2 separate regions of the Homo sapiens genome follow, and region 1 is linked to region 2. The links come from fine-mapping of genetic effects on gene expression. A gene starts in region 2. The other region holds a variant in brackets. All regions are shown on one strand. Distances are between the middles of the regions.

The links. PIP is the estimated chance that this variant, and not a neighbour inherited with it, causes the effect.
Region 1: its variant is fine-mapped to the expression of DNAJC13 in whole blood (TOPMed, PIP 0.96).

The regions. Positions count from the first base shown.
Region 1 is chr3:132,462,759-132,468,141 of GRCh38, forward strand. DNAJC13 (DnaJ heat shock protein family (Hsp40) member C13) reads left to right here. Exons shown (of 56, transcript NM_015268.4): 17 at 938-1,059; 18 at 3,237-3,312; 19 at 3,541-3,636; 20 at 4,412-4,555. Among named protein-coding and RNA genes, the nearest start is that of DNAJC13, 48 kb to the left of the region's middle. The variant A/G (reference allele first, on the strand shown) is at 2,924.
Region 2 is chr3:132,414,456-132,419,838 of GRCh38, forward strand. DNAJC13 (DnaJ heat shock protein family (Hsp40) member C13) reads left to right here and starts at 3,047. Exons shown (of 56, transcript NM_015268.4): 1 at 3,047-3,305. RefSeq lists silencers at 2,737-2,836, 3,117-3,256 and enhancers at 3,287-3,436, 3,376-3,911.

The DNA of each region.
Region 1 (5,383 bases), 48 kb after region 2:
ATTTGTTTATTTTACTTACTTAAAAGTTAGCATTCTATCTGTTGCTCTTTTTTGGAAGGATAATGTTGACAGTGTTGAAGTCTTGAGATACTGAGCTTGTATAGAAATCTATTGATGGAGTTAGTTCATACCAAAATGATACCAAGTAAGAAAGGCAACAAAAAGTTCTTGATAAAGCATATTTGTAATTGAGCTCTAGAGATTGGAGCATGATCTTGTCGAAGATACTGCTTCTTTAAGATAGTTGCTTTATGCTTCTATATTTTTTAAAAGGTTGTAGCTATGAATGTCTGTTGCATACTATGATGATTACAATGACATCAGTCTAAATGGCTTTTGAATTCTTGTATTTTGTTGTCATAGAAGCAATTTGAATACAATTGAAGAAAGTCTCCTTTTACCAAAAAATTCATTTATTGTGCATAAGTATAGCACACAATTAATCACAGAATTAGTATGCCCTTAAGTAGCTGTAAATATATATAGGCATTGAACTGAATGGAACATCAAAGTTTATTTGCATTTTTAGTGTGCATATACAGCCAAAGGCTAATTTTCTCCCTTTAGCTAATGGGTTCTTTGCTCAATGTTAGCTTCCAAAGTGCCCATCTTTTACAGAGCTTGCGATAGCCAAGCCTCTCCTTTTTGTTGGCAGCTATACACAGAGGGAGTGAACCTAGTTTTAATATTAAGTTTAGCAAAGCATAGTTTATGAGGTAAATTTGTCTGGAAACATCTCAACCTTATTCCAAAGGTTTAAAAATTACCTGTGCTACTACTCACCTATTTTTTTTTGGGTGATTAGAAGATGCATTTTAAAAACTTCTATTACATACTGAATGTTTTTTTCATTTAAATATGTAAAATTAGTTTTTTAAAGTTTGGATAGCTTGTCCTGGATTGCCACCTTAGGGATCATCTTACCCTTTTTCCAAAGGAAGGTGATAAAGAAATTGCTACAAAAATGCAGGAGCTTGCCCTAAGTGAAGGTGCCTTACCTCGACACTTGCATACTGCGATGTTTACAATAAGCTCAGATCAAAGGATGCTTACAAATAGGTAGGTGATTTAATTCAATTTGCTGCAATTTAACTTCCTGTCTAGAGAATTGATTCAGATGTTACATAAAACTAAATGTGTTTGTATTACACAAATAATACATTTTCTTTTGATCCACCTAGTTCTTTTCCTTTCCTTACAGAAGGATTTTGCCCAAGTGATCACTGTCCCTGCCTATGGAAAACCTGGAGGGAAACACTGTTTACTTTTTTTCCCCGACCTATTATCAGGCCCTGACACCATAGTCATGGGACCAATATGGAAAAGGGTACTTAAAAGCTTATGGAACTAGAACCACATGCTCAGGTCTTTTCTCCTTATATCCCTGTGACCATCTTGCATGCACATGACCCCATGGGAAAACCTCACATAGTTGATTTTTAAATATCTTTGGTCAAATACTCTACTTTAAAAACCACAGAAAACCTTACATATCCAGCCTAAGCTAGACTTAACCTAAATCTCTTGTAATTAAATGATTCCCTTTTTCCTGATAGTCATTCAAATATAAACACATAAATTTATTCACTTATTCCACACTACATGAATTCCAGCCCTTTTTAACCCTCTTTGTGGTTTCTAACATGTGACCCTTTCAGCTATCTTAAGCATACTATATTATGACTCATATTAGTAAAAACAGTATCATAAATAGTTTTAATTTTATTTTTTGACTTTTTAAATAATAGCATAAGTTGCTGAGTTAAACGTTTAGTTTGTTACAATACTGTACATTTTCTTTGTCATCTATGTGCAGTTATTATACATCATGGTATGCTGCCTTGCCAGGGATTTTTTTTTTACTGTTTATACTATTAGAAGAAACTACCTCCCTCACTTGTGTTAAGAACAAAACTAGTCTTAGAGGATAAAGATAATAAGGATGTTTTCCTAGTATTGTCTTATTAGCAGTGCTAGACACCATCTTTCATTAGAGACTATTGATAGCTTATTCCATTAACCCCTCCCCATGTTAAATGCTTGCTTGTTGTGTTTCTCTTCAGTATAGTTAACCAGTTAAATTCCCTACTGTGATCAATTAGTGTATTAGGGAAGCATTTTAATTTGGAGAAAATTCCAAAAGGTTAGTAATATTTGAATTACACTGTTAAAGATCTGTCAATGTATAATAGAAATATCACTCTATTTGCATTGCTTTATCTTTTACAAATTGCTGTTATAAAATGTTATCTCTTTTGTCCCTAACTAAAGCCTTTTTAGGAGTCACTGATATGATAACCTACCAAATGCCAGTGAAGGAAATTACAAGTTTAATTACTTCAATATGTTAGCTTTCAAATTGGCACAGGAATGAACAGTTTTAGTGGCGTTCACTTTCTGGTGACAAAGTATATTTTGGGTTTTGCAGTTAAATTTTGTTCTTCAGTAATGTAACATATATAAAACATATGTTTGTGGGTGGTTATTTGGATATTTCCCTCATAGGTTTCATGACCATTCTTATAGCTATGGTAATTGAATCCCCACCAAAGCACAGAAGGGTCACTGGTGGGTAAAATAGGGTTTCTACTTATGAGGAGCTTTCAGTTAAGGTGACAGGTGTTGAATGGGGATTAAAATTAGTAAATGACTAAACCATAGATTGAACTTGGATCTTAGATTTTTACTTTGAATTAAAATATACTTTTATAGCTTTTAAGTGAGATGAGTTGAATAATTTGCTATAAGTGGTTTAGGTCTTTGCCCAAACTCTAGAAGTGAAAATAATTTTCTCTCTGATCTTGCCAAAACGGTTATATTAGAACAGTTGTTGACTTCTGCTTGTTCAGAATTCCAAAAAATGCCAGGATGCCATTGTCACTATATTAGTAGGACTGGTTAAACAAATTAATTGTGTCATCAA[A/G]TCTAATTGTTTTTGTTGTTTTTTTTCTTCCTTTAAGTGGGATAAAAACCTACTTTTTTCCTGTTCGGGTTTATTGAAAATGAGTGTATGTTTATTAGGAAAACATTTTAATTTTTAGAAAATTCCAAAATATTAGTAATATTTGAATTATAACTCTCCACATTAAATTTTTTAATAACTATTTTTAACATCGGAATGATTTTTTTACTGTAGCCGTATTTTTTATAATTATGTGATATTTTGTTCTTAAAAATTCCTTTCTGTTCTAGCTGAGATAAAGCAGCAAACCTTTCTCAACGTCTGCTTTTTTCAGACAGCTAAGTAGACATTTAGTGGGACTCTGGACAGCTGATAATGCAACTGCAACAAACTTGTTGAAACGCATTTTGGTAAGTCAGTTGAGAAATTAGGTTATATACTGCCTAATAAAATTTAATTGAACAAGTTATCTGTACTGTTAAAAGGGGATGGTTTGTTTTTTATTGAAAAGTTATTTATCATAGGAGTTACCGTAAAGTTTTACCCTCAATAGCTAAGCCACAGTATTAATTTATTTGGGTTTTTAAGGCTAAATTTTCTTTTTCACATTGTTTTGAAAATGGATTTTGTGTTTTTAGCCGCCAGGCTTGCTGGCATACTTGGAAAGCTCAGATCTCGTACCTGAGAAGGATGCTGATCGGATGCATGTTAGAGACAATGTGAAAATAGCAATGGTAAATATGACTGTCCCAAGTGTGCCTTTTTTAGGAGTAAGGGTACTGTTATATATATGTCTTTTTTTGAAACACGTTAAAAATTTTAGAAACAAAGAATTCATTGCATTGAATAGTATACTTAACTATTGATATCTTTATTGAGGTAAAATTTACATCCCATAATATTCATCTTTTTAAGGTATACAATTAAATAATTTGTGGTATATTTACAGAGTTGTGCAGCTATCACCACAAATTAATGTTATGAATAGTGGTCATTTTATTCTGTGTTTTGTTTCTCTAATTCAACTTATTGGTACGTTCTGGAGTACCAGTAAGTGTGTAAATATGGTATTTTGCACATATGAGATTGATAAATGTTGTTGGTAAAAACGGCCAACCATGAAAAAAGTTATAGGTAGGGTTTTTTTCCTTACAAGATCTATGTTAATTATAAGGTTGGGCCATCCATGGAAAAATTAAACATCTTTATGATACACTACTATAATAATTTCTTACGTGTATTCTTTTTCTGTCATCACTCCTTCTCTGTCTGCACCCAGCTCCCACTTGCATCTTGCCACCCCTCATAAAAGAATCATCTTGAAACCTAAGTAGAAAAGTTAGTTTCTTGGATAAAAAGTATAATTGTAGAAGTTTTCAGTTTGTTTCTTCACTGAACCATAACATCCAGCATTAACCTTATAAAATAGATAGAATGACTCAGCTTTACATAGAGTTTTAAAATAAATTTGCAAACAGGCATGTAATGGATTCCAACATTATTTTACAGGATCAGTATGGAAAATTTAATAAAGTTCCAGAGTGGCAAAGACTAGCTGGAAAAGCTGCTAAAGAAGTTGAAAAATTTGCCAAAGAAAAAGTGGATCTTGTATTGATGCACTGGAGGGATAGGATGGGCATTGCTCAAAAAGAGGTAAAAATAAAATTTGCTTCCAAATTCCTGGCACTTCTGTGTGTCCTAGTCTACTTTAGTTCCTGCTGTTCACAGAGATGGTATCGATACATTTCTTGCTGAATACCTGAAGCTTAAAAATGAATGGTACCTAATTTCTTTCTTTTTTATTTTATTTATTTATTTATTTTGAGACAGAGCCTTGCTCTGTTGCACAGGCTGGAGTGCAGTGGAGCGATCTCGTCTCACTGCAAGCTCCGCCTCCTGGGTTCACGCCATTCTCCTGCCTCAGCCTCCCGAGTAGCTGGGACTACAGGCACCCGCCACCACGCCCGGCTAATTTTTTGTATTTTTAGTAGAGATGGGGTTTCACCGTGTTAGCCAGGATGGTCTCAATCTCCTGACCTCGTGATCCGCCTGCCTCAGCCTCCCAAAGTGCTGGGATTACAGGCGTGAGCCACCGCACCCGGCCGAATGGTACCTAATTTCTAATTCATATTTTTGTATACATTTTCCTTAGTTCATAGTTTTATGAGTTGATGATTAGGTTTTTATTTTGGTATTTAATATAGAATTCCACTCTTAATTTTTCTTCCATTCCAGTTTTTGTTCTTTTTTATTCATATGTATTTATTTTCTTCCCTTCTTCTCTGGACTTTGTTTTGCACCTATAAAAATAAAGGTGCTCTTCCTGTTAGCCTTTTTATTCAGAACTAGCCAGACAAGTGTTTTGGAGATTAAGATTCACATTTTAAATTCAATTTATTGTGCGTACTTAAATTTTGTAATATTTGTTTCTCAAATCAAAGTTAGATCTAAAACAGTTTTAGTCTCATTCTTCAGCATGCA
Region 2 (5,383 bases):
CCTATTACCAAGCTTTAACAAGTATCATTAAATAATACTTTTTTTTTTTTTGAGAGTTTCACTCTTGTTGCCCAGGCTGGAGTGCAGTGGCACCATCTCGGCTCACTGCAACCTCCCCCTCCCAGGTTCAAGTGATTCTCCTGCCTCAGCATCCCGAATAGCTGGGATTACAGGTATGCACCACCAGGCCCGCCTAATTTTTTTATATTTAGTAGAGACGGGGTTTCATCATGTTGGCCAAGCTGGTCTCAAACTCCTGACCTCAGGTGATCCACCCGCCTCAGCCTCCCAAAGTGCTGGGACTACAGGCGTGAGCCACCGTGCCCGGCCTAAATATTTTTTTCTTTTAACACGTGTAATCAATATAAAAATTGCTAATGCAACATTTTACATTTTTTTGTAACAATTTTAATTTTTATTCTGTGTTCAGTAGCCACATAGGGCTAGTGGCTACTGTACTGAAAACATAGTTCAAGCATTGTTGAGTGGTATGAGTTCTTAAGGATTTACTTTGGATCTGGGCATTGATATAATTAGGAAGGTCAATTTAGCAGCAATGGGAATTAGATAAGCAAGTGTTTGACATTCTTGTGGGCTCTCTAAAGTCTTAGATCACTCCAGCCTTGTATGCTAACTTTGGAGACTGATAAAGGCTATTGGTGCCTAAAAGGCTGTGAAATGTATTTTTTAAAAAGCTGTGAAATATTTTAAGTGTACATCACATAATTTAGATTGTAAATTTGATACATCTGCACTATGAAAGTGTCAGAAACGCTAGTGCAAACTTTAATTATGAATAAAAAGACAAATCCAGAAAAAGAAGTGTGCATTTGTCACTCTTAAAAAAGAGTTGGGTGGGGAAAGGATCCAACTGATTTAACCTAATAGGGAAAGAAGAGACAAGTCCTACTCTCCCTGACTCTTGTATTTTGTTGTGGCATTTTAAGAAGGATCCAATTGTATGGATCCAATTAAAAGCAACCAGTGGTTGTGAAAAGGCTTGAAACTACATCTTGTGAACAATGGTTGAAAGTACTTTGAATATGGTTTCTTAAAATGAGTATCTGTAGCAGGGGTAGTTAGAAGGATATGCACGGGAGAGGGAGTGGGAAAGGGTGATAAGCTGTACTGATAAGTGCTTAAATGAATGTCACATACAAGAAGAAAAGAGCAAGAAACAAAGACAAAATAACTACTCATAGAAGAGAGTGCAAGTTGGCTGAATACAAGGAAAATGGCTTATAAAAATGCAATGGAAAAAGATGTCTTGTGAGGCAATTTTGCACTACAGAGGATGGGGACAATTCATGATGCCTAAGGCTCCTCTCAACACGAGAATTGATTTTATTGGTCTCAAATATTGAACAGAGAGGCAGTGTGGAGGTTGAACAGTTCACTGGCCTTGATGTTACAGGCAGGCCCTGTGTCTTAATCTTGGCTCAACCTTTAGGAGTTAGGTCACCTTTAGCAAGTCTCCTGGACTCTCTGGGTCTGCTGCTTCTCTAAAATCGAAATAATATACCCCACATTTACTTTTGGGATTACTGGAAGGCTTTGTAACCACATAAACACGTTTCTGTTTCCATGGGATAAGCCAATAAGGCCCCTTAACACAGCCCTCCTGTTTCTTTTTCCTCCTCCTCCCTTCCTACTCTATTTCGGGTTCTGTCTTCCCACACCCAGCTATTCCTAGTACCTTCCCTTACATGCACCTTATCTTACTGCTGCATTACAGAAAAGTCTAAGGATAAACACAAATAGTCTTTTTCCGCCCTAAGGTAGGGCAAAGGGTTAATAGAATCAAGAGGTAAAGTCTGTAAAAACCATTTTTCCACATTTTTTCATCCTGCAATCGCTGTCTATAAAATGAGCCAACTTGCTGAAGGGGACGCCAAGAAATCACAATTTCAGGACTGCCATGAAGAATGAGTATTCAACTCCTTATCAGAGACCTTTAACCCTTATACAATAATGTATCCATGCAGGTCACCCTACACTGCCTCTACTCTGAAGTCTGCAGCAGAATCACTATTTTTTTTTTAATCACTAATTTTTAAACTGTGGTCTTTACGGCTCAGATCTGGGAGTGGACATTGACCTTTCTTATTTAAACCATTGCCCACAGATAACACATAATTTCTAGCCGAATCCTTTAGTCCCAATATCCCCTCTTTTCACTGCCCTGACTTCCCTCTCAGGTGAGGTTCAGGAAGATGGTTATCTAGAGGGCACAGGTTCTGGGTTCAAATTACTTGGGTGCAAACATGAAATCCACTACTCTGAGGCTGGGCCTCAACTTATCTGCAAAACGAGGATGATTCGTATCTCAGAGAGTTGAAGATTAAGCAGCTTTAAGTAAACTTCTAAACACTTGATCCGGACACAATAAATGGGGCTACCAGAACTATCTTTCCAGCATTCCCACCTGCAAATGCCTTAGGCGTCTCTGAGAATTTGGTCTCTGAGACCTTCCAGAGCATCCATAACTTAAACCCTGCTCTGCTGTCGTTCAGGACGTCTCAATAGTAAATGAACCTGCTGGCTCCCAATCCAGCCAAACCAGGAGATAGGCTGAGGCTTCAGACTGCCTCGCAGATGCTCCATGGCACTTGACGGCAAGAGCTAAAAAGAGGTGATTTAAAACAAGATTTCCTCGGACTTAAAGCTTAAGTACCGGGTTGCGACCCTACTCTCCGCAGGACATAAGCGGAGGGGCGCGGCCCTAAGGCACACGCCGGAGGGGCGTGGTCATGGGCACCCGCCGGAGGGGCGTGGTCATGGGCACCCGCGCGCGCCCAGGGGCGTGTCCTTTTCAGCACCCACCGAGGCGCCAGCCCCCTGACGCGCTGCGTGGAATCCAAATCCCACGGCCGGTGTCGTTACTCTGCGCATGTGTAGCTGCTGGGGGCTGGCCGGAGGAAAGCAGAATTTCAGGGAAAGAACGATCGGGACGGGGAGGACGGGGAGGGCGGGGCAGAAGACGGAAGAGTTGAAATCAGCTGACTGGGTCTCGTGACAGCCTGGGCGGTGGCGACGCAGGCGTATTAGAGCGCGCTCGCTCAAAGCCTGAGCGAAGATGGCGGCCTCCAGAGTGAAACTCTGAGAGGCAGAGGGAGGAGGCGGAGGGGGCGGGGAGGCAGCGCCGCGGCGGCACCAGGAACCCGCGGCAGCGGAGCTGCAGGGCCCCGGCGGGGGAAAGGGGAAGTGGTGAGGGTGAGGAGGCCGGAGGGCGCCTCATCCCACTCTGGAAGCTGAGCCGGCGGCGGGAGGAGCTAGGGCTGGAGCCTCTCCAGCCTCCCGCGAAGGTAAAGCCGACTCCGGGCACTGGGCTCTGGGGCTCTGCCTTACTCCCTTCCCACGCCGTGGGGACTTTGTGGGGCTCAGGGCAGGGAAAACGGGGTGGTCTTGGCTGCTGCAGCCTGCAGCTGCTAAGGAAGCAGATTACCCTTCCCCCAGGCTGCTGGTCTGGTTCCTTTCGTTGGACGCCCCCCCGGCTTTGAGTGACATTAGCTCAGGGCGCTGCCCTGTCCAGCCCCACCCCTTTTTTTTGCTTGTTTTATACCTAGTACGCTCCTCCACTCGCCTTAACATATCCTTACCCCACAGGCTCTTCATTCCCTTGTGGGTTCCGCCCTCGGGATTCCCTTCCAGTCTCCTAGTCTGAGCACCCTTCCTGCTGGATGCCGGCAACTCTTGTTTCCTTGGGTCAGCGACCCTCCTTCCGAACAAGTCCTGCAGACTGACTTTCTTTGCTTTGTTTCGTTTTGTTAGGAAATGAGCATCCGCGTCGTCTGTTCTCCAGTACTTTTTCTAAAATCATTTTCTCCCCTAAGGCTTTTCCTTCCTGCAAGGCAGCTTATTCACGTGGCCTTTCCTCCGCTGCTGTGATTTTATCTTTGAATGTGGCCTTTGGAGTGGGTAAAGTAGGACTTAGACGCTCAGTGAAGTGGCTGTTAATCACTTGATACTTAACTATGTTTAAGAGTGCCTTCCCTTAAATTTTCTCCTTTTGTAGCGTGTTCCGTTAACCACGTTTGTCTTAAGATTGTTTCCTGTGTCCGTTGCTTAGAGGGGGGAAAAAAGTAAAGATTTCACCCTAATGTGGCGGTGGTCTCCCAAAGTAATTATTTCTCATTTTCCCTCTGCTTTTCCCTTTTACGTTATTCTGATTTCCCTCAAAAAGGAGGTTCTGTACCTGATGCTGTTGCGTCCTCTATGAAGGGCTTTATAGTGTACAGTTATGTTGAGCCTTTTGTAATACAGTGTCTTGGGGAAAAAAGTAGAAGTTCAGAACCTGCCCCCAGTAATTCTTTCTTACTATATTTTCTTTCTCAGTTTATGGACTTGATAGGTTTCTAGGTTTGAAACTACTGCCTGCAGGGAAAATTACAGTGATAAGGTTTTATAATATATTACCAGTACTTTGAGTTTATGGGAGTATGAAACAGAATTTGCCTTAAAAAAATAAATTTATAGAAACCACTTGTCAGAAATTCGGTATCCAGAACACAGTTCTTTGATTTTTGGAAAGTACTTTATTGGCTTATCTATCATATAACGTAAAACCTTGTTCACATTTTGTGTAATGTGAAACGCTTTTTAAGCTACTATATCTCAGACTTGGCTTGTGCTGTTAGTATCACAATGCATTCAGGCAACACACGTCCTTGTGTAGAAATTATTACATTATACTCCTTGTTTGAAAACAGGAAGTAGAACATATTAAGGGAGGAAAAGAGGAGTCAGAGGATTATTAAGAAATAAGAATGTAAAGAACCTTAAGGCTAGAGTTCAGTTCATGGAAAATATCAGCATTTGTATTCCACTGAGAGGCAATGAATATTCCTCTTTTTCTAAAGTGGTAGTAATAAATAGTCTAAAATATATTAATGTTATATATTGTTAACAAGCTTAGTTGTAAACAAAATACTTAAGCTAAAAAATAAAATATTAATAAGTGAATGAATTGTTTGGAATAATTTAACTTTATCCACAAATAAATAGAAGATGGTTGCCTTGCCCAGGTGGACTGTAACAATACTGGCTTTATTAAATTTGTTAAAAGGTTGATAGTGGAGTCCGGTTCTCAATAGGTCCCAAATTAGGGTTGAAATTGAAAAGATGTGTTTTAACTAATTTGGCTTCATTCCTCAACCAGTTCTGTTTACACAGGTGAATATGAGGTTTCTGCTACACATACCTTTCCCCTGCTTCTGATTGAGGTACTTTAAATTAGTAATTGAAACAAGGCTGTGCAGATAAACTGCAGCACAAATTTGGTTGCTACAAATAGGTTTTGGCCTAAATGTTCACTGTAAAACATGGCAGTAGTTAAAGGGGAGTTATTAATATTTTGAAAGAGTTCCTTGAGTCAGTGTTTCTC